Linked DNA regions of Homo sapiens. The protein of the gene in region 1 purifies or fractionates together with the protein of each later gene. This does not show direct contact. Each region holds a gene or a part of one and is shown in the gene's direction. Other genes may lie near its edges. The genes, in order: VDAC2, FAM162A, RAB7A and NDUFA9.

Evidence for each region.
Region 2: the proteins of VDAC2 (region 1) and FAM162A fractionate together in Homo sapiens (co-fractionation; 3 studies listed by BioGRID and IntAct, with this or other methods). This does not show direct contact.
Region 3: the proteins of VDAC2 (region 1) and RAB7A purify together in Homo sapiens (affinity purification with mass spectrometry; 3 studies listed by BioGRID and IntAct, with this or other methods). This does not show direct contact.
Region 4: the proteins of VDAC2 (region 1) and NDUFA9 fractionate together in Homo sapiens (co-fractionation; 2 studies listed by BioGRID). This does not show direct contact.

What each region holds. Positions count from the first base shown.
Region 1 is NC_000010.11:75,227,753-75,231,948, forward strand, and holds the end of VDAC2 (non-selective voltage-gated ion channel VDAC2), read left to right. Parts: intron 1-1,891; coding exon 1,892-1,949; intron 1,950-3,145; coding exon 3,146-3,237; 3' UTR 3,238-3,696; downstream 3,697-4,196. UniProt on the Homo sapiens protein: Non-selective voltage-gated ion channel that mediates the transport of anions and cations through the mitochondrion outer membrane and plasma membrane.
Region 2 is NC_000003.12:122,408,158-122,412,853, forward strand, and holds the end of FAM162A (protein FAM162A), read left to right. Parts: intron 1-1,581; coding exon 1,582-1,674; 3' UTR 1,675-4,177; downstream 4,178-4,696. UniProt on the Homo sapiens protein: Proposed to be involved in regulation of apoptosis; the exact mechanism may differ between cell types/tissues.
Region 3 is NC_000003.12:128,729,177-128,736,219, forward strand, and holds part of RAB7A (ras-related protein Rab-7a), read left to right. Parts: intron 1-7,043.
Region 4 is NC_000012.12:4,680,092-4,687,134, forward strand, and holds part of NDUFA9 (NADH dehydrogenase [ubiquinone] 1 alpha subcomplex subunit 9, mitochondrial precursor), read left to right. Parts: intron 1-2,113; coding exon 2,114-2,209; intron 2,210-5,167; coding exon 5,168-5,234; intron 5,235-6,846; coding exon 6,847-7,017; 3' UTR 7,018-7,043. UniProt on the Homo sapiens protein: Accessory subunit of the mitochondrial membrane respiratory chain NADH dehydrogenase (Complex I), that is believed not to be involved in catalysis. Required for proper complex I assembly.

The sequences.
Region 1 (4,196 bases):
ATTTTTGTAGTTTTAGTAGAGACGGGGTTTCACCATCTTGGCCAGGCTGGTCTTGAACTCCTGACCTTGTGATCCTCCCAAAGTGCTGGGATTACAGGCATGAGCCACCCAGCCCGGCCAATAATGGGAATTTCTTTCTTTCTTTCTTTTTTTTTTTTTTGAGGCGGAGTCTCGCTCAGTAGCCCAGGCTGGAGTGCAGTGGCAAGATCTCCACTCACTGCAACCTCCGCCTCCCGGGTTCACGCCTTTCTCCTGCCTTAGCCTCCCGAGTAGCTGGGACTATAGGTGCCCACCACCACGCCCGGCTAATTTTTTGTATTTTTAGTAGAGACGGGGTTTCACCGTGTTAGCCAGGATGGTCTCGATTTCCTGACCTTGTGGTCCGCCTGCCTCGGCCTCCCAAAGTGCTGGGATTACAGGCGTGAGCCACTGCGCCTGGCCAATAATAGGAATGTCTATCCAGCTGTCTGAGGCTCTTATTTGTAGGGTACAAGATGGTCATTAGTGAGGTATTTTTCTTTCTTTTTTTTTTTTTGAGCTTTGTTGCCTAGGCTGTAGTTCACTGGTGCAATCACAGCTCACTGTGCCCTCAGCCACCTGGGCTTGAGATCCTTCCACTCACCCCCCACTTCCCTGGTAGTTGGGTAGGTGTGCACCATCATACCAAGCTAGGAAAATTTTGTACAGACAGACAGGGGTCTCACCGTGTTGCCCAGGCTGTTGAATTCCTGGGCTCAAGTGGTCCTCCCGCCTTGGCCTCCCAAAGTGCAGGGATTACTGGTGTCAGCCACTGCGCCAGGCCTGTTTTTTTCTTTAGATGGTCATTGGTAGCTCATGAATATTTGGCTGTAGTGCCAAGTGAATACAGGTGTTTTGGATGTGGTTTGTGTCTGTATAGTTACATCATTTCTTTCTCTGGATTGGGCTCTTTGGATGTTACACATTATAAGAGTATAGACATCGAATCATTTGGAGATCTGTTTTGGTCACATAGTCTGTTTGTTACCTTTATATTGTAGCCCTCAGAATGCTGAAAGCAAAGCAAAGTTGCATGTCTAGGCAACCTAGGCCCTGGAAATGAAGGCAGGTGTTCCTGGCCTCTGGTGTGTCTTCATAATGTTAGGGGTGGTAGAGAATGGAGCTAGAAAGAATCTACTCTTTACTATGTCTTACTCTTCAGGGTTCATTCCAGCCCTTGAAGTCGGTAACTAAGTCCTAAAATGTTGGGATTGTGCAAGGAAGGCAGGGGCCTGGATTGGTACATGATACCTCACTGGGACCTCCTCCCAAACGCAGTGGTTACATACAGCCAGAACTCAGCAGCACCGGCATTTATGAGAGGTGTAAGAATGTGAGGATAAAGGATTGTTTGATCTGATTCTTCAGAGGAATTACTTGTCGTTTGGAGATTTTTTTTTTTTTTTTAAACATTCATGGTTTTGATTCTTTAGGAAGAGTCCTGGAAGTAGTAATGTGTGTAACTAAGTCATGAATTTAAACTTTATACCCTGTGCTTTAAGGCTGCTGTGTGTCACCTCTAGTGAGCCTGACTTGTACCACATTTTGGTCTGGTTTGTTGTGCTAGACTAGAATTAACAAAGATGATTTTTATGAGAGTGCTTAGGCTTTTGTGCTGTATGGACAGTTTGGGGTCTTTGGATACATTCCAGTGGCTATCAAGAGTATTGTGTCCTACTGAGAATTTGATTTTTGAGTTGAATGGATACGAATTAAATAGTACCTGGTTTGTTTGGCTTAATACATAATATTGAATTTTATTGTCTCACGTGAATAAAACTGAACACTTCATGATTACATGATGGGGAAACATGTAGGGGCTTTGTCTCTATTGAAATATTTTTCTTACAGTTGTTTTTGTATTTTATTTTAGGCAAAAGTCAACAACTCTAGCTTAATTGGAGTAGGCTATACTCAGACTCTGAGGCCTGGTAAGTATTCTTGATAAAGTAGGATTGTTTTGATAGTATTAAAAAATTTAGTTTTCATTCTTCAGCTTACTTTTCAGACCTTTCAAGCACACAGAAGAGTTGAAAGAAGAGTACAATAAATACGTGTTTACCTTTTACCACAATTTTTTATTTCTTTTTCTTTGCTTTTTTTTTTTTTGCTGGGCCATTTGGTCATGACACTTCTCTTCAGAATAAGGCCCGTCTCTTCTTTTCTGCATAACTATAATACTATCACACCTAAGAAAGTTAGTGATTCCTTATTATTTAATACCCACTTCCTGTCAGTTTCCTCGCTTGTATCTGAAATGTTTTGTAGTAATTTTTATTTTGTTGATCAAAGTTCACTCATTGCTTTGGTTCTGCCTATAGTCTTGTTGACTTTATATAATATTTTGAAGCGTGCTGTGTCTAGAACAGCGCTTCTCCAACTTCAGAGTGCACATGACTCATCTTGGAATCTGCTTAAAGTACTGGAGACTTCCCCCTTCAGATAGGGATTTTCCTCCCCAAAGTTTATTTTGGTGATTTTGAAACCTAAAGAAAAGTTGGAAGAATGGTACAATGAACATCATATGTCCTTACCTTGCATTGACCAATTATTAACAATTTATTAACAATTATTAACATTTACTACATTTATTTTATGTCTGAAACTTCACATACTTTTAAAAAAATGTATGTTTTGCAGACATACAGACATGGCAGCCCCTAGCATGTGTATCCTAAGAGTAAGACATTTTTCTTTATAAGCACAATACCATTGTCGCATCTAAGAAAACTAACATTAATGTAATACCAAATACATATTCAGATTTACCCCCGTTCCCAAATGTGTCTTTATTGTAGGTTTTCCTTTCTAGGATCGAATTATGATTATGTCTTTAGTCTCTTTTCATCGGGATAGTATACTCAACATTATAGTATATTCTAGAACACTTTGAAGTTGTTATTAAAACATTTCTCTGTGACTTGGTGCCTTAGCTAGAATGGTAACCCAGTTCTTCTGGTGTCTCAGATACTTCCAAGCGCCCTCTGGTGGCCAGCACTAGTAGGTCAGCTGACAGGCTGAGGAAGTGACAGGCAGGCTCTGGGGATGACTGTGAAAGAAGGCCCAGACTGAGTGACGTGCCAGGTACATCACGGTTTTTTGTTTTTGTGTTTTTTTGTCTTAATAGGTGTGAAGCTTACACTCTCTGCTCTGGTAGATGGGAAGAGCATTAATGCTGGAGGCCACAAGGTTGGGCTCGCCCTGGAGTTGGAGGCTTAATCCAGCTGAAAGAAACCTTTGGGAATGGATATCAGAAGATTTGGCCTTAATATATTTCCATTGTGACCAGCAGCAGGCTTTTTTCCCCCAAGAAGATGATCAAAACAAAGGATGATCTCAACAAGAGCTGTATTTTAAGTATTTAGACAGTTCTTTGTTAGCTGGTTTCTAGTTGGTTATCTAGTTACCAATGCTGCAGTCCTGCAGTCACCTATACATTATTTAAATGTATTTAACTGTTAAATGCGCTACCCACCAATAATGAAATAGACCTTTATGAAAACTGTGCAATTGTGTGCATGTTTGTTTTTATGTTCCTTTAGAAAACATTGACTGTTACCATTGAATGAGATGGATCAGTGGATATTAAGATGAGGTTACAAATTTTGTTAAGTTCAGCCATTATTACTTTTGGTATCCCAGAACATGACAAATTATGAATAAAACAAGTATACATAATTAATGGCTCCAAGTATTTGCGGAGTTCCACGTTTGCCAGCTAGGATCAAATCCCCGTGGTAGCTAGCCAATACTTGATTTTTCCAGTGAGTATTTTGCTCTGTACCTAAATCTGTGCCACAGAATCTTCTGTGTCCCTAGATTCCACGAGCTTTTTAAGACTACAATAAGAGGATACATGCTTTTACACTTTTACATGCACAGTTTGTAAGTCTGTGCAGAATTGCCCTGCATCATTGAAAGGAAAAAGAGAAGGTGCTGAAAAGTTACACAAACACACCATACCCCTGTGAGCTACTGCTAGGAACATAAAGTAGGCCCTGGTTTGGTGAGATGGTGTTAAGCATACAGAAGAGGAGTAAGGTGTAGACAGTGAGGGTAACCTGAGGGACTGTGAGAGGTCATTACTCATTTCCTTCTAGGCAGACACACTGAAAGGTGGGTATAGGTAGGAGACCAGAGACAACCCCTTTAGGCTGCGTGGCATTGGCCTTCATCTG
Region 2 (4,696 bases), on another chromosome or scaffold:
GCACTGTTAAGCTCACTTAATCACCCCCATAACCCTAAGAGGTAAATAGTTTTCCCAAACTCACACAGCTAACAAGTGGCAAGATAAAAATCTAGACCCAAGTTTGCAGGTTACCAAACCTCATACTATACTATCTTGCTATTAAGCCATAGTTATTTTTATATTCAGCAGCTTTGGTCAAATTCTTCTTTTAATACCATGTATAATTCTATATATCACAGCTTCCATGTGGAAAGTGATGTCTTACAACTACTTTAAGATACTAAAAAGGTCCTTCTATACACGCACTCTTAACTGACTTTCTTATCCTCAGTAATTCCAGAGTAAAAGGAAATGTACTTTTGGCTGTCTTCATTCTTGCAGTTAAATGGAAATACTGACCATTTTAGGCTGACCTCATGGGAGTACGAAGGGGCAAATGTGCTGAGCTGGGTGAAGTTCTCTTGAAAACTCTGTTCCCACCCCACTTCATTTTTTCTTGTCTCCCTCTTTGACCTCTCATGCATAGTTCTCAGATTAAAACCAGCAGAAACATGTGGACAGGACTGTGAGCTTCTAGGATTCTGAGAAATTTGCATTGCTTTTGTATACTCGATTGTACTAGCTGAGTTTAAATACTCCAGAAGCAAATTATTCACCTGGAATCTCTTCTAGCATCATCCAGGGGTATATGCTGTGTATTTTAGAGAGTTCTTCTCCTGTTCTTTACCATAAAATTGTAACATTTTAGTTTTATGGAATTTCTGTTTCCATAAATACTACTGGAATGGAGAACTTTTGAACTCAATGTGATTTGGAAGAGAAAAATTAGCCATTGTATATTTTGCTCTCACCATCAACTTCCCTTTCTCCCCCCGCTCCCCCACCCCCCGCCACATACCCAATTCTTTTACATATGAAATTACACAGATAGAAGGAAATATCAGCTTAGGGTGCTAGTTTCACTATTTGGTATAAAAGTGTTGAAACTGGCCTGTATGTAAGCTTCATAGAAATCTGACCGTTTACATGGAGGGAAACAAGGGAAGAGGACGGTTGCCTCCCCCACTCAAAGGTTGGAATTGTAGTACAGATACTCGTGGAAATCATCAATGGTAGTATTTGGGTAAAGTCTGGGATTCCCAAAGCTGAATGTTTTTGGTAAAAGAGAAGTGAGGAACTAGAAGGATCTGAGTATGCAGATAAGTTGGGGAAGGAGAAATGGCAGCAACAGAGAAAAGTGAAAGAAGAAAAACGGGATAGAAATGGCAATGAGAAGGTATTTAGTATAAAAGAGAAGTGGGGTGGAATGAGAAGAAAGTATAAGAGAAAAGGAGAGGATAAAGACTGAAAGAAAGGGGCCAGAAGGGAAGAAAAAGGAGAGGTGTGGCACTTCTTACTTATGCTTGAGTGGATGAGCTGCTGTTCTTGGAAGCGTACGAGGAAGTTGAAGCACATAGAGGAAACTGCCGTGCTCAGTGTGCAAGCAGCAGAGGACTCCATGCCTCCATGCCTCTGTTAACCTGCTGTCATCAGTGCAAGGTAAAGACACCCTCCCCTGACCAGCATACAAATCACCTGTTCAAATCTGTTTTGCTTTAGGCTGCCCAAAGACACGAGACTTTAACAAGCTTGAACTTAGAAAAGAAAGCTCGTCTGAAAGAGGAAGCAGCTATGAAGGCCAAAACAGAGTAGCAGAGGTATCCGTGTTGGCTGGATTTTGAAAATCCAGGAATTATGTTATAACGTGCCTGTATTAAAAAGGATGTGGTATGAGGATCCATTTCATAAAGTATGATTTGCCCAAACCTGTACCATTTCCGTATTTCTGCTGTAGAAGTAGAAATAAATTTTCTTAAATAATGACTGTGTTTTATTGTTTTGATCCAAGTCAAGTGTAGCCTCTCAGCCTTTTGGAGAAAAATGAAACAATTTATTTCAACTTGAATACCAACTCTTCAGAGAAGCAGGTACCATATCTTACTTCTCTTCCCATTATCAAAGTAACCTCTCCACAGGCGAACTCATTTTGAGGAGATAAGGAAGGCCAGTTGAGTATATGGCCCAGGTGCAGCTTGGAGGGCCAGCCTTCTCAAATGTCCTGGTGTACTGGTGGGGAGGCTGCCCCCTAATAGAGCGAGCGCTGAGAAGCAGCCAGACCACATTCTATAATCTTTGAACATGCTGGCAGATGGAGGCTTTTAGGAGAATAGTTTTTTAAACATTCTGACAAGGTCCAGCCAGGAATTTCTAAGGACTTAGAAATCCCAGCGTCATGGAGTTGCTTGGGGTCAACACAAGTCACCTCTTAGCTTCATGCCTTAGAATTCTCAACTGGCTGTTTTCTTACCACCTGAGAAACTAAATTTCTCAATTATAAAAATCTCATGTATTATTACTGTTAGAAGTATTTGCACCTCATATATATCTCATTTACAGTTTGACCTTGGGATATCGAGTTGTCTCATATTTAGGTATGAATACAGGTTTCTATTTTAAACATTGATTCTCACATGCTTCTTAATTATTCATGGATGACAAGCCATTATAGTAGTCCCTTCTTATCCACGGCTTTGTTTTCTGTGGTTTCAGTTACCTGAGGTCTGAAAATATTAAATGGAAAATTCCTATAACAATGCATAAGTTATAGATTACATACCATTCAGTGTAGCATGATGAAATCTCTTGCCAATCTGTTCCATCCACCTGGGATGTGAATCATCCCTCTCTCTGGTGTATTCACACTGTATGTGCTAGCCGTCTCTGTTACGAGATCAGCTGTCGTGGAATCAGTGCTAGTGTTCAGGTAACTCTTATTTAATAATTGCCTCAAAGTGCATTGTGCTGTGCCTAATTTATAAAATAAACGGTATCATAGGTATGTATGTATACGAAAAACATAGTATATGCAGGGTTGGGTACTATCCACAGTTTCAGGCATCTACTGGGGGGTCTTGGAATATATCCCCAGAGGGTAAGGGGTGACTACTGTATACAGCCATGCCAACATGCTGGTTCTCAGAGAGTTATAAGAGAGATTAAAAATACATGCAGCTGTTTGGGCACTTTCTTCCCAAATAAAATACCCAGTAAAATGTAACATACTACCTATAGCTTGATAATCTATCTGAGGATGTTTATGATGTCTGTCTATATACTTTAATTTGGCCTTAGCTTCTTTGTAGGTATCAAGTTATCACTTGCAAATTTATTTTCAAAAAGCATAGTTTCTTGTACATTTTAGAAGATTAGTTTTTCTTATTTTGGGACACCTACACCAATGTTTTAAATGTGGATAAATTTTAATGTGGAATTTCTTTTAAAAATAATCCTCTTCATAGAGCAATACAACAAAAATGTGTTGTATCTTGGAGATTTACATTATAAATGTAGTAACATTTATGAGCTTAAATTTAATGAAACCTTTTTTTTTTTTTTGAGACAGTCTTGCACTGTCGCCCAGGCTAGAGTGCAGGGCATGATCTCAGCTCACTGCAACCTCCGTCTCCCGGGTTCAAGCAATTCTCGTGCCTCAGCCTCCTCAGTAACTGGCATTATAGGTGTGCACCACCACACCTGGCTAATTTTTGTATTTTTCATAAAGACGGGGGTTTCACCATGTTGGCCAGGCTGGTCTCAAACTCCTGACCTCAGGTGATCAGCCTCCCTCGGCCTCCCAAAGTGCTGGGATTACAGGCATGAGCCATGGTGCCTGGCCAAACGTTTTTATTACAAATATTACATTAAACTAAAGCTCACAACTGTTATTATGCATCAGGAATTAACAGTCATTTCTCATTTGTGTTATTCTCCTATTTGATAACATATAGTGACTATCTCTTTATGGGTTAAATATCAGTTTCTTGGCCAGAATTCAAGATCTGCCCCTAACTAATCCTACTTCTCCCAGTACCCTTACAGCACTCCTACCCTACTAGTAACTCTGATATCTCATAGTCCTCAGATTTATCAAGCAAACGAAACTGAATGAGCACTACTATAAGGTACCACAAACTACAAAAGGAGACAGTTTTGCCCTTGTTGCTTTCAGTTAAATTATTGTGCTATTTTTTGCTTAATTTCTAGGTTTTTTTTGCGTGTTTATCATGTCTCCGTAGGTAAAGTGGGCAGAAATCTTTTTCTACTTTACATTTCCTGTAAGTGCTGTTTGTTTGAATAAAGTTAATGTGTGAGGTTACGGTTACTTTTTATTTTTAATCAACATGATAGTTTTGGGAATTTATTACTAAAATTTATCAAAGCAGGCAAGGAATGAAGTTGTATCCTTCACTGTCAAACATTACTTGAGTCCCTTTACTACACAAAAAAGCCAAAGAATACAAGAATACAGAGACATACTTCCTGATTCCACAGAACTCATAATCTGGAAGCACAGCCCATGAAAGCATTTCAGTACAAACTGGTAAATAATAGGGACAGGAAAACCTAACTAACTCAGCTGTCAGCTGTGGTTGCAGGCAGGCCGGCAGTGGATGGTTCCTTCAGTGATTTCTGAACTGAGTTTGAAGCATGGGCAGGAATTAGTAGGTCAGACACAGAACAAAAGAAGAGCAGTCTTCATCAGACATTTAGCTTGCCTGAAAATCACAAGCACAATCTAAAAAGGTAGTGAAAGGTCCTTGAGAAACACCATTTATAATGTTGTTTTGGTTTTTGAAATTTTTAGACTCTTAGAATGAACCTAACCTTGGCGTAT
Region 3 (7,043 bases), on another chromosome or scaffold:
AATCAGAGAACAACTCTTTATAGTAAAGTGTGGCTTTGAATCAGTTTTCTGACCCCACTGCCAAGTGAAGCCAAAAAATTTTGGTTATTTGATTAGCTTTTAATATGTCTTCAGCTGGGCACGGTGGCTCACGCCTGTAATCCCAGCACTTTGGGAGGCCGAGGCAGGTGGATCATGAGGTCAGGAGATCGAGACCATCCTGGCTAACACAGTGAAACCCCATCTCTACTAAAAATACAAAAAATTAGCCGGGCGTGGTGGCGGGCGCCTGTAGTCCCAGCTACTCGTGAGGCTGAGGCAGGAGAATGGCGTGAACCCAGGAGGCAGGGCTTGCAGTGAGCAGAGATCATGCCGCTGCACTCCAGCCTGGGCGACAGAGCGAGACTTCTTCTCAAAAAAAAAAAAAAAAAAAGTCTTCAAAGGGATCTTCACTAATAACGTTTTTGCTCTTACTTTGGCATTAGACTTTGTAAACAAAGATGTAGCAAACACAGACCACGCAAATATGACAGTTGTCTTATGCACATTCCTCTCTGGCATTTGACACAAATATTTTAGTTTTTCCTATGATAAAGTATTTATCTCCCCATTCATTTAATTCAACAAATACAGCTGAGATAGATTTGACCAGATGTTGGACTTGGAGCTGTAGGCAGGCTTTTCCTGGGGAGGTAAGGATTAGAAGTCCTCCTGAATAAGGCTAAACAGAGGTTCCCCTTGGCATTAAATGTCTTCTTCTGAAGGCGACTGAAACTCGAGAAATGAACTCCCCGCCTCCCCCCTTATTTTTTGGCTATTGGCTTGCTGTTGATGATTCTTACCTCTCATGTAAGGAAGGCTACCATTGTATTCTCAGGCATCCATTCCTTTGTGTTACCACATGCTTATCTGTTAATATTATCTAATAGTTCTCTATGCTTCTCTGTCTGCAGTTTGCTGCAGAAACATTTTTGCAATATGCTGATCTTTTCAGTTATTTGCTCTTAAATCTTCTATTCTGTTTTTCCCCACACTCCATATGGCATTAAAGACAGAAAAATAGTTTGTGTTTTAAAACTTTTTTTTTTTTTTTAGACGGAATCTTGCTTTGTAGCCCAGGCTGGAGTGCAGTGGTGCCATCTCAGCTCACTGCAAGCTCCACCTTCCAGATTCATGCCATTCTCCTGCCTCAGCCTCCCGAGTAGCTGGGACTACAGGCACCCACCACCACGCCCGGCTAATTTTTGTATTTTTAGTAGAGACGGGGTTTCACCGTGTTAGCCAGATTGGTCTTGATCTCCTGACCTCGTGATCCACCCGCCTCGGCCTCCCAAAGTGCTGGAATTACAGGCGTGAGCCACCATGCCCAGCCTAAAACTTATTTTTAAAACATTTCTTAATGGTGGTGGTCACTGCGATTTGTGAATCAGAGGTAAAAGTGATGTGGCGAGTGAAATCAAAACAAGTTTTTTAGCAGTGTCTGTTACCAGTTTCAATTTTAGTATCCCAGGCTGTGATTACAAAAACATATTTAAGAATAGCTACTTGCAAAATATCTCCTTGTGGGAGGAAGAAAGCTTGGGAGTTGGTTCCAATGCTGACCTACAGCATTGGCCTTGTTCATTTGCTTGAAGATGCAGTACTTAACTCATGGGGCCTGGAGTCTCTGTTTTGGTGATGGCATCACTGCTGAGAAATTTAAGTTTGCCTGATTCTGTTGTCCACTTCTGGTGTCCTGGGACTGTCTACAGTTGGGACCAAGCAAATCCAAGGGAGCCTATTTAAGGGGAGCCTGGGACAAGGGCAGTTTAGGAATTCTCCAGCCTTGCTTGTCTCTTAGTTGGTCCTTCTTGTGTGGCTGCTGCCAGATAAAGGAAAGGAAGTTCTCTCTTCTCCCTCAGCCTTTCCTTTCCAGCTTTGCTTCATACTGCTGGGCATTAACCATCTCAGATCAGGAGTCCTTTAAAAGTTACTTAGTGAAGTAAATAGTTACATCATTGATTTCCAATATTGGTATGTAAGTGTAATAAAAAGTTGGTTTCCATTGAATAAGCTTTGTAGTTTGAGTTATTTGAGAGTGCATAATTACAAAGCTGCTATGAATTAACCTTAAATAACCAAGCATAGACTTTATGAAAAATAGTGTCCCTTATATGTGGTATTCAGTCAGCCTACCAACAGTTCTTCTGTTCACTTACAGATATGAGGATCCCTGAGATAACTGCGGGTCATTTAAAACCCACTCTTAAATCCTCTGACCTGCACCATGTTAATGGTTGTTAAAAAAGCGATAACATTTTGTAGAAACCTTCCTACACATTTGCCTTTAAATGCTTTTTAATGTTTCTGTGGTATTTGTAGTTTACATGTGATTTCATTTGGTGCTCACAACTGTTGTGTGTATCTGCCTGAAATAGCTGAGGCTGTATGCTCAGGTGGCTCAGCTGGAATGTCAGTCTAGGTCTGCTAACTCAGTTCAGTGCTCTTTCTGATGTACCATCCTGCCTTTCCATTATATGCTAGTGCCCTAAAGACCACGACATTTCACCCCTTGTAAAAGTGTATCTTTCGGCCGGGGGCGATGGCTCACACCTGTAATCCCAGCACTTTGGGAGGCCGAGGAGGGTGGATCACAGGGTCAAGAGATAGAGACCATCCTGGCCAACGTGGTGAAACCCCGTCTATACTAAAAATATAAAAATTAGCTGGGCATAGTGGCATGCACTGTAGTCCCAGCTATTCAGGAGGCTGAGGTAGTAGAATCGCTTGAACTGGGGAGGCGGAGCTTGCAGTGAGCCGGGATCGTGCCATTGCACTCCAGCCTGGCGACAGAGCAAGATTCCATCTCAAAAAAAAAAAAAAGTGTCTCTTTCTTCCACTACCTTTTTTTTTTTTCTCTCTCTGAGACAGAGTCAAGCTCTGTCGCCAGGCTGGAGTGCAGTAGCATGATCTCGGCTCACTGCAACCTCCGCCTCTCGGGTTCAAGCAATTCTCCTGCCTCAGCCTCCTGAGTAGCTGGGGCTACAGGTGCACGTCACCATGCCCAGCTAATTTTTGTATTTTTAGTATAGATGGGGTTTCACCATGTTGGCCAGGATGGTCTCAATCCCTTGACCCTGTGATCCGCCCGCCTTGGCCTCCCAAGGTGCTGGGATTACAGGCGTGAACCACCACGCCTGGCCCACTACCTTTTATTTAAAATGATACGTCTTTTTTGCTGATTATTAAACTATTCAGTTAAAAAAAAAAAGCTAGGAAAATTCAGAAATATAAAGAAGGAAAATTTGTGATTCACTACCCCGAGGAAGACCAAAGTGTTAACTGGTTATTTTCTTCCTTTGAATGTATACTTTCATACCTTCCTTTAATGAGATTGAACTCTTGGCCAGGCATGGTGGTCAGTACTTTGGGAGGAGTAATCCCAGCACTTTGGGAGGGTAAGGCAGGAGGATTGCTTGAGCCCAGGAGTTCAAGACCACCTTCAGCAACAAAGTAAGACTCCATCTCTACAAAGAAAAGAAAAAATTAGGTGGGTGTGGTGGTACACTTGTGGTTCCAGATGGTGGGAGGCTGAGACGGGAGGATCACTTGATTCCAGGAGTTTAAGGCTGCAGTGGTTTGTGTTCGTGGCACTGCACTCCAGCCTGGGTGGCAGAGCAAGACCCTGTCTCAAGAAAAAAGAAATTGAACTCTCCCCAAAAATGATGTGAGAATTTAACTGTGGAGGAGACCAGATACTCTTGGGTGATGTGACCTGTGATACTTCTCCTAGTAGACACTGAATGATGAGAAGCTGGGGATCATAGGAATAGCTGTATTTTTCAAATGTTTGTTGGTAACGAGTGAGGAACCTGATGCATCCAGCTCCAGAGTAAGGTTTATTTGCCATGGTAACACTGGATAAGTACATTGTTGCCTGTATTTCCAAGTAATTTATCATTTCTGTATTTTAGTAAACATACATATATACAGAAAAGTGCACAAATAAGTGGACGGCTTAGAGAATTTTTATAAACCCAGAGGCCCTCTTAGTCTCCTTTAAGTCATTATCATCGATGCCCTGATGCTTGCGTAGTGAGTCTTCTGATTTCTAGAACTGTAGACTAATTTTGCCTGATTTGGATTTTGTGTAAATGGAATCATACACTGTGTATTCTTGCGTATCTGGTTTCTTTGACTCAGTGTTGTTTGTGAGACTTTGTGTTGTTGTGTACAGTTGTAACTGGAGTTTCCATTGCTCAGTAGTATTATGTGATATATCATAATGTATTTAAGTAAAAAGACTGAGTTTTAGGGTATGTGTCTGTATTCATTTGCTAGGGCTGCCGTAACAAGTATCACAGATAGAGTGGCTTAAACAGAAATTTATTTTCTCAATTCTGAAGGTTAGAAATCTGAGGTCAAGCTGTCGGGAGGATTAGTTTCTTCTGAAGCCTCTCCTTGGTTTGTAAATGACTGTCTTCTCTTCCCTGTATCTTCACAGGATCTTTCCTCTGTATTGGCTGTGTCCTATTCTCCTTTTCTTTTAGGACACCAGTCGTATTGGATTGAGGCCCACCCTTATGACCTCACTTAACCTCAGTTACTTCTTTAAAGGCCCTGTCTGCAAATAAGTCACATTCTGATATATTGGGGATTAGAATTTCAACTTAAAAATTTTAGGTGGACACAGTTCACTTCATAAGAGTATCTATTCTGCTCTAGTAGATATGGCCAGTTTTCAAAAGTTGTACCAGCGTATTCTTCCACCAGCAGTATATAAGAAGTCCAAATATTCCACATCCTTGCTAGCACTTGTAACTTTTTCTCTCTAATTTTAGTTCCCTCTGGTAGAAAGCCATTTCTTTATGGCACCATGGTACAGCTTGTTTACTCACCAGTGTAGGGGAACCTCAAGGGACTGGGGAAGGTTATCCTGGAGTAAAACGTGTCAGTTTGAGACTACCTCTTGTAAATGCTACTTAAATCCATTGGGGTTAAAAGCAGAGGTTCGGCCAGGCACAGTGGCTCATGCCTGTAATCCCAGCACTTTGGGAGACCGAGGTGGGCGGATCACTTGAGGCCAGGAGTTCAAGACCAGCCTGGCCAACATAGCGAAACCCTGTGTCTACTGAAAATACAAAAAATTAGCCAGGCGTGGTGGTGGGCACTTGTAATTCCAGCTACTTGGGAGGCTGAGACATGACAATCGCTCGAACCTGGGAGGTGGATGTTGCATGAGAATCGCTTGAACCTGGGAGGTGGAGCTGAGATTTCACCACTGCACTCTAGCCTGGGCGACAGAATGAGACCCTACCTCAAAAAAAAAAAAAAAAAAAAAAAGGAAAGAAAAGAAAGAAAGGAAAACACCGCTTCAGTCCAGTGAATGAGCAGTTAGTCTTCCATAGTTGCCCATAGCTTACTTTTATAGTCTGGACTCCATTCCTGGTGGTGGAATTGGCCTGTGAAAGAGTAATCTGTGGGGTGTAGATCTAACCATAGTAGATGGTGCTTTCATTCCAACTCTCTTTTTTGGTCAGACACTTGAGCCCTTAGAATATCACATTCTATCGTACATATGCTAGAAATAGGTCTGTTTTGCATATTCTGACTGACCCTTCAGATATTAGTGGGCCTTTCACCACCAGCCTTTTGGCTGCGTGATCTTCAGCTTTGTGTATCCATTATAGACCTTAGTTTGATTGAAATAATATTACATGACTTTGCCTGTCTTCCAACTCTAAGCCACTTGAGGACAAGGATGAATCATTATTCTAGAATGGATCTTGAAATATTACTAAGCTTTTGTTTAAATTTTTTCCAGTTCTAGCTTTTCAGAGTAAGTTACCGTTTATAGCATGTAAGTTATGCTTCTGGGTCAGTGGTTAATATATGTGGGTTTCCTGAATGATGAACTATGTGTTCTGTGTTCATTTAACAGGTTTTTCTTCTCTACTATAAGAAAACACTGTTGGCCCCTGTGGAGAATTATTCAGGAATAATTGTAAATACAGGGCAGATGAGAGTTACTTAGTTTAGAGTTGTTCAATGCCTGGGGTGGTGAGGGGCATGTTGAGTGGATTTTTAAATAAATTGGTAGGCAGGTGAGAGTTGGGAAACCATTATAGTTGGAAAGAATGGCATAAGTCAATGAATGGATGTAGGGATTGCAGTAGCTCTAATTTGGGAATGACTGTATGTATGGAAACCAGATCCTGGTAGGGAGGGCAGGCACTGCAATCCCTTGTTAGAGGATTTAAGTTCAACCAAGTGGCACTTCACTCTGTAATGCTGGAATAGACACAGCATAATCCTGTCACTTGAACCTCACAATTAAGTCAGATAGTACCCCAGTTATGGGTGAGGAATGGCTTTGATGTTGTAATTTGTCTAAAGAAACCATACATTAAGAGCTTAGTGGGCTAGGATTGAAATACTACAAGAGTTGTGCTTAAACTTTCAGAGAGTTGCTTCTTCAGAAGTGGCTTTAATGAAAAGTTAAACATGGGAGCTGGTTAGGGGAGGTGGGATAGAGGAAGAGAGCAGTTAGTTTGGTTTTCCTCTTTAGCCAGCCCATTGTGGGCTCCTCTTAGCAATTTATGGGCAGTCTGTTTTACTGGTTAAATGCCTGAGATAATCTAGGGTTGATATCAAACTATCGAAGATAGTTCTTATGTAACTGTTTTACTAGCTATCTGCTTTCCAGTTTGCCTTACCAAAAAGAAAAAAAGGCAGGAATCATCCTGGTCTCTCGTTAGAGACTAAACTTTTGGCTTAGTACCTGGGTTCAGAAAGCTTGATGACAGTGGTGCATCGTATTGAAGAATCTATTGATCCAGGAGTGAAGTCCTCTTCACAAGAATTGCCTTCCAAGACACTCTTCTTTGTGTAAGTTGCCTTTGCCTTTTCCCTCCCAGCAGGAATGCAGTACTCAGAGCAAAGTACATAAACAATGTCTTTACATTTCATAGAGGTTGTTACCTTGTTTAAACTTCACAATTTAAGCAGCATTTGATTTGTCTCTTTTTTTTTTTTTAGATGAGGAAATGGACTAAAAGGTCATGCTCAGTATCTTGGAGCCACTG
Region 4 (7,043 bases), on another chromosome or scaffold:
TAAAAGGCAGGATGGAGTGGGTCAGAAAAGTGTGTGGAAAATTTGAGGACAGAAGATAGAAAGTATGCCCTGGGAGAACAGGAAAGAGCATTTCCTAGGAGAACATGTGGGATTGCCAAGCAGAACTGAGTGTTCCATTGGAAATTACTGATAAAAAAATAAGGTGAAGTCAATCAGTTCAATTGTATTTCGTCTACAGTTTTGTCCTTCTGGGGTTTCAGGCTCAGAGAAGGCACATGTTTGGGTCAACCAGAGTGAGTTTTGCTTAGCAAGTATAGTGGGTAGGGGCCTGGGAGACAAGATTTTGCTGAGGATATTTGCAGAGGAATAACTGTGATGCTGAGCCTTGAAATCTAAGCTGGGAGGATGCGGGCTTCAATGTACCTTTGGCTGTGAGGAAGGGCACTTAAACTAGTGTTCCGGTTGCACTTGATGGAACACAAAGTGCTTCAGAACAGCTGAAAAGGAAACCTATTATGTAGAGTTAGTTAACCCATGATACCAGTTTTGTTTGTCATCGTAAAAATTCAAGTTGCTCTTGGCGTAGCATGTATTATATGTCCTGTAATGATCCTTACAAATCCCTCTGGAATTTGAAGAACCCTGCTAAGGCCTTTGTCTGATATTTCTCCTGGCTGATAGTTTCATGTTTTTTAGTAAAGTATGTCAGAATAATGAGGTTCTCACTGAATTACCTTCACTCAGCTCTTGGTTGTCACAGATTTACTGTCATGAAGCATGCAAATGAATTAGGAAATGGGTAAAGAAATATTAAAATGCATTATAAGCACTGATACTTATTAATGCTAGGTTAAAATCGTACAGAACTATTCAGATTAATGGAATAGAGCGGAACGTTCAGAAACAGTCCCATTATATGTAAGGATATAGTATGTGATAAGGGTGACATTTCAGTATAGGGAAAGAGGCAGTACAGTAAATGATTCTGTAAGTAGCATTGAAGCAATTGGCTTACATCTTGGGAAAAATATAATTACATGTTTACCTTATATAATGTACAAAAATACGTCACAGAAGGAACTTTATAGTAAAAAAAAAATCTTTTTTATAAGGTTTAGACAAAATATGTAGAAATTTATGTCACTGCAGAGGAATTTTCTAACTATGAATCCAAGCCATAAAGAAAATCAGTAGTTTTGGTTAAATTAAACAGTTAAAATTTTATGTGCACAAAACACTGTAAATAACACTAAAAGTTAAAATACAAACAATAAAAGGTATTTCCAACAATATCACTAAAATATAGAGAATTCTTACAAATTATTTTTATAGACAGGGACTCCAGGAGGAAAGAAAAGATAGATGTATAAATGACCAAAAATTCGTGAAGAAATGATCTCTCATATTAAAGACATAATAATTAAAACATGAGATACCTTTTTTTTTTTAACCTAGCAGATTGGCAAAAATTTTATTTTCTTATGACAACTCATTTCGGGTGGAGGGGGCATTCTTATATATAATTACATATATATAATTATAATTTATATAATTATCTAAAATGTTATATACTTAACATTTTATATAAATTGATAGAACCATTTTGAAAAGCAGTTTAGAAGTATTCAATAAAAGCCTTAAAATTTTAAAGTCTACATTGACCCAGTTCCACTTCTACAAATATATTCTAAATGCGTAATCATGGATAAGTACAAATATTTATTACAAGAATGTTCATTAAAACATTATAAAAGAAAAAAATTTTAATAGCATAAATATCTCAAAACTGGCAATTGATAAAATAATTGTGATTACATGCAGTGTAATATGTTGTCATGAAACATGCAATAAAATAATGATGTGGAAAGACGATTATGATGTAATGTTAAATGAAAAAGACATTACGGAATAGAATGGATTGTGTATTTATTAAAAGCAGAATAATGTATATATGTAAGGGGATGAGAAGGATATAGATCAAATATATTAACTATCTTTCATAATGGGATTATGGGTGATTTTTCTTTGTGCTATTCTGTATCTACTACAGTGCATATATGTTTCCTTTTTTATAAGGAAAATGTTATTTTGTTATAAAGGAAACTTTGTGAGAAGCGTGTAATTGAAAGAACTGTGTATTGTCTTTTTATAGTCCCAGTCGGTACCTCCTTTTCCACCTGGTGAAGTACATCTTTGCTGTGGCTCACAGATTGTTCCTCCCATTCCCCTTGCCGCTTTTTGCCTATCGGTAAGTAGAGTGCTCCTTTTGTGTGACTTCTGAAAAAGCCAGCTCCACACACTTGTTCCTAATGTTCTCCCTTAGGGTTATAGGGTGTGTGAAGGGCTGGTCTCCAGATCTCCTAGTGTTATGACATTAGCATAGAGAAGAAGCAGAAATAGATTAGTGTTGGTTAAAAAAAAATATATTGGAACATTAAATCTTCCCAATTCCCAAAAGTGAATCTTCCCACTTCCCAAAAGTGAAGATGCAGTTCTTCACTTTCTCCAATTTAAAACCATCGAGTTTAATTTTGGAGAAATATCTTGCTAGGCACATATGTAAGGGGCAGTCAGGTTCCCCTGTGTTTCATGTCGCTCATTATTAAATCAACCTGATCATGCTATTGGGGAAAGGAGTCAGGCTAATTCAGACTTGGATTTGTGGTTGCCTTCTCTTCTTTCCCTGCTTCTTAGTTTACTTCTTCTCTTTGTGGGTTAAATATCTTTGACTTGGCTGGGAGTGGTGGCTCATGCCTATAATCCCAGTACTTTGGGAGGCCAAGGAGGGCAGATTGCTTGAGCCCAGGAGTTTGAGACCAGCCTGGGCAATATAGCGAAGCCCCATCTCTACAAAACATACCAAATTAGCTGGATGTGGTGGCATCTGCCTGTAGTCCCACCTACTGGGGTGGAGGTGGGGTGATGCAAGAGAATTGCTTGAGCTTGGGAGTTCAAGGCTTCCAGTGAGCTGAGATTGTGCCACTGCACTCCAGCCTAGGTGACTGCTACTGCGCACAGTGGTGCACACCTATAGTCCCAGCTACTTGGGAGGCTGAGGTGGGAGGATCACTTGAGTTCAGGAGTTTGAATCCAGCCTGGACAACATAGTGAGACCCTGTCTCTGGAACAAAAAAAAAAAAAAGAAAGAAAAGAAAAACCTACTGCCCTGAGGTAACTGTTGATGGGAGCTCCTTTCTCGTCCTAGGTTTTATATTGTCCTGATTTGAACCAAATAAAATAAAATCTTGAACTTACCATGTCACACCCTAGTGGTCTGGTTAAGGAGACTGTCACATCCATTGTGCCACAAACTGATCTTCATTTGGGTTTTCATCCATTCATTCAACAAATGTTTATTGAATGCCTACTATGTCTTAGATAATGTACTAGGTACTCAGAAGGTTACAACAAACACTCAAAAATCTTATGGTCAGAATGTTACAACAAAAACTCAAAAATCTTATGGTCTAACAGGGGTACCAGAAAAATAGACCACTAGAATGCAGGGTGATAACGATATTTATTGAGTGTTACACCTTTCAGACTATTCACTTTGTCTCCTTTAATACTCAGTTATCTATAAAGTAAGTAAGGAGAGTATGTGGAGTGAGTGGAAGAGGAGGCCACAGAGTAAGAGAAACTTACAAGAAGGCCAAAAAGTGATCAGGCATTTAAGTGGGAAATGAGAGTTTGGAATTCTAGATACCAAAGGGAATGGAGTGTTTTCAGGAGAGAATCGATGTTTTAAGAAGGGGAACATTGCTGTTCATTCACATGTATCTCAAGCCCCTAGAACAATGCCTGGTACACATTAGGCACTCTGTTAATATTGGTAGAATGAAGTCTTACAGAAAAGTCAAATAAGATAAAGGACCAAAAAATGTCTACAAATGACCATTGTGACCGTGGCTTCAGTGCCGTGAAAGGGATATAAGCCAGATTGCAGTGAGGCACTTTCATGGTTGTATATAAAATTGAGTTAGAGTTGGCTTATGTATGCCCATGACATGGCCCACTGAGGACACTAGAATAGAGACCTGAAGTGATCTGTTAGCATAGAATGAGGGCACAGAGAGTTAGAGGTTTGTAATGAGTGTTTTTATTAAGCTATGTTAGCCCAATAAATTATTTTTTTCTGCCGTTGAGGAATCTGAGGCTTTATATGTTGCTGGAGAAATTCCAGCCAGCTTCCTTTTTCATTTATTTATACTATGCATTAGAATGTTGTTTTTCAAGCCTTTAAACGGCTGTGGAACCCTGTGCTCACTGAAGTTTTACGTCAAGTCCTGCTGGGTAAATCCAATAAAAGAGCTGGTCTGGTTGCAGTGATGGGTGATACTCAACGCATGTACTCCCAAACCCTTGGCCCCCCAGGACTCTGTGGGGCCCCAGCAAATTCCTAGTGTTCCTCAGATGCTAGTTGAAAACCCACTGCTACTGGGCACAGTGGTGTACACCTGTAGTCCCAGCTACTTGGGAGGCTGAAGTGGGAGGATCACTTGAGCCTGGGAGTGTGAGTCCGGCCTGGACAACATAGTGAGACCCTGTCTGTGGAACAAAAACAAGGAAAGAAAAGAAAAAGTCACTGCCCTGAGGTAACTGATGATGGGAGCTCAAGTGGCACGTAAGGAGCCCTTCAATTTTCATTAGCAGTGAAGAGATGGCAGTAATGAAGATAGGTGGCCTTTTCCGTTTTGGGTTTTATATTGTCGTCCTGATTTGAACCGTAGATTTTAGCCTTCTCCTTGCTTTTGGATTTTTTTTTTTTTCCTCAAGGGCCCCAGCTTTCAGGGGTTACGTTGTATATTTTACACACCATTCAGCTTGCCCTGCTTCTGTAAAGGCAGCATATTTGAATATCTGAGGTTTAGATTAAATTGAATTTCACAGACTTGATTAAATACTGGAGTTTTTCTGTTTGCTTTGTTGTTTGTTGGTTTTATTTCATTTTAAGTTTAAGATCTGTTGTTTCTTTGGAGGAGAACAAAGTGTACCAGCAGTTACAGCAGCCGACTGGGTTGGCTTGAGAGGAGATGGACCAAAAAGCAGAGGTAGCCTCACAGGTCGAGGTGGTTATTTTCTTAAAAAAAAAAAATCAGTTCAGACTGCTCTACAGCGGTCTGTCTTCCTGCAGTTCTCATAGGCTAGCTTACATCTTGGGCAGAGAGATGCTTATCACATGTGCTATATGTATTTCTCTTTCCAGATGGGTAGCAAGAGTCTTTGAAATAAGCCCATTTGAGCCCTGGATAACAAGGGATAAAGTGGAGCGGGTGAGTACATGTGTGGAAAGCGTCTGCCTGGGCAGATGATGAGGCGTTAGACTTATTTTGCTTTGCCTGCTTGCTTGTTTCCCGGCCCTTGTCTGTTTGCTGTTCTTGCTGTCTGCAGTCAGCCCCTCTACTAGCGCTGAAGCTCATCCACCTGCCCTGCTCCAGGGGGCGGCTCCTCCCTACTTTCTGTCCGTCATTATCAGTGTTTCTTTCTCTGCTTGATCACTCCTGTCAACACACAAAATTGCCTAATAGCTCCCCTGCCAAAGCCTCTCTTCCTCCCATCACTCTTCCAGCTACTTTCCTGTTGTGTCCCTTCACATCCTAACTCCTCCTAACTTCCTCCTAACGTCCTGAAGAAACTGTTGACAGTTTCTTCCTTCTTTCTTTAACCTACTCCAGTCAGGCTTTTATTCCCATTTCTCCCCTAAAATTGCTCTTTTCAAGGTTATCCACAATCTCCAGTCTCCTTGCTGCCACATCCAATGGTCAGTTCTCAGACCTCATGTCATGTGCCTGTGCATTTGCTTCTAGGGAGGATGCAAAATAAAATAAAAATACTATACCAATACCACATCTACCTTGGAAGACCTATGGACCATATATTGGCAAGAAGTAGCCAAATTGTCCCCTGAATGCTGCCTGAAAGCTAAAGTGTAGAGAAGATGAGAAAGTAGTGCTTAGGGAACATGTGGAAGTGGGCAACTCACATACTTTCTTCAGACATGGTCTATGAAAGATCAGGCAGGATCGCTGGTTGTCAGACACTTCAGTTTATCTTACACTAAAGTGTCTCTTACGTTTATACTTGAGAAAGTGTTGATACAGTGGCCTGAGTAGGTTTTGGATTTGGTTTGCAGACTGGCTTACAGCCCTCTGGTAAAAGAATTGCAGACTTTCAGGTGGGTAGGATGAGGGATTGCTGCTGCTCTAGGTGCAAATGGATTCTATTTATGTGGTTTTGAATAATAATCTGGGATGTTTGCAAACTTTACAGTTCATTATCTTTCCCTATAAACAAGATGGGTTTGGTTTTCTAGCTCTACAGTGAGCATTAGTCAACCAGGTTGAGTACAGCTGGAGCAAAAAAAGTTACTTGTTTTTTTTTTTTTTTAATGGGCAAGGAACAAATGTTGTGTTATCTCCTAAATTCAAAGTTAAAACTGAGTCAGAACGCCCGTGCTCAGAAAACAGGGGCGTGAGAGGACTGAGGAATGGACCAGCTCTGCTTAAGCCCTGATTTTATTCCTAAACCCTCCTGTTCAGCCTCCCCTGGCAAGTGTGGTGACTTGTGCTTCCCTGCCCTAGATTTATTTCTGTTGAAATCTGTATATAGAATGGCTCATGTAGTGCCAACATCCTGTGCTCGCGGCTGCCACTGGGGACCTCGATCTGATACTTGGTGATCTCGCCCTCTTTTGTCTTAAGCCCTCTTTGTGTGTTCTGCTTTTATAGTGATTTGCATGAATCGAAAATTGCCACATATTCTTTGAAAGCAATTAAGTCTCAATAATAGGACTCATGCCAGCTTGAATGTTTAAGTGCCTGCTAGGATAGCACTTTGTTCTCAGCCAGTTTTCAGCATTGTCTGTGGTCCTTTGTTTATCCAAAGATGCACATCACAGACATGAAATTGCCTCACCTGCCTGGCTTAGAAGACCTTGGTATTCAGGCAACACCACTGGAACTCAAGGCCATTGAGGTGCTGCGGCGTCATCGCACTTACCGCTGGCTGTCTGCTGAAATTGAGGATGTGAAGCCGGCCAAGACCGTCAACATTTAGTGCCTCCTGAGCAGCTCTTGGTTTTG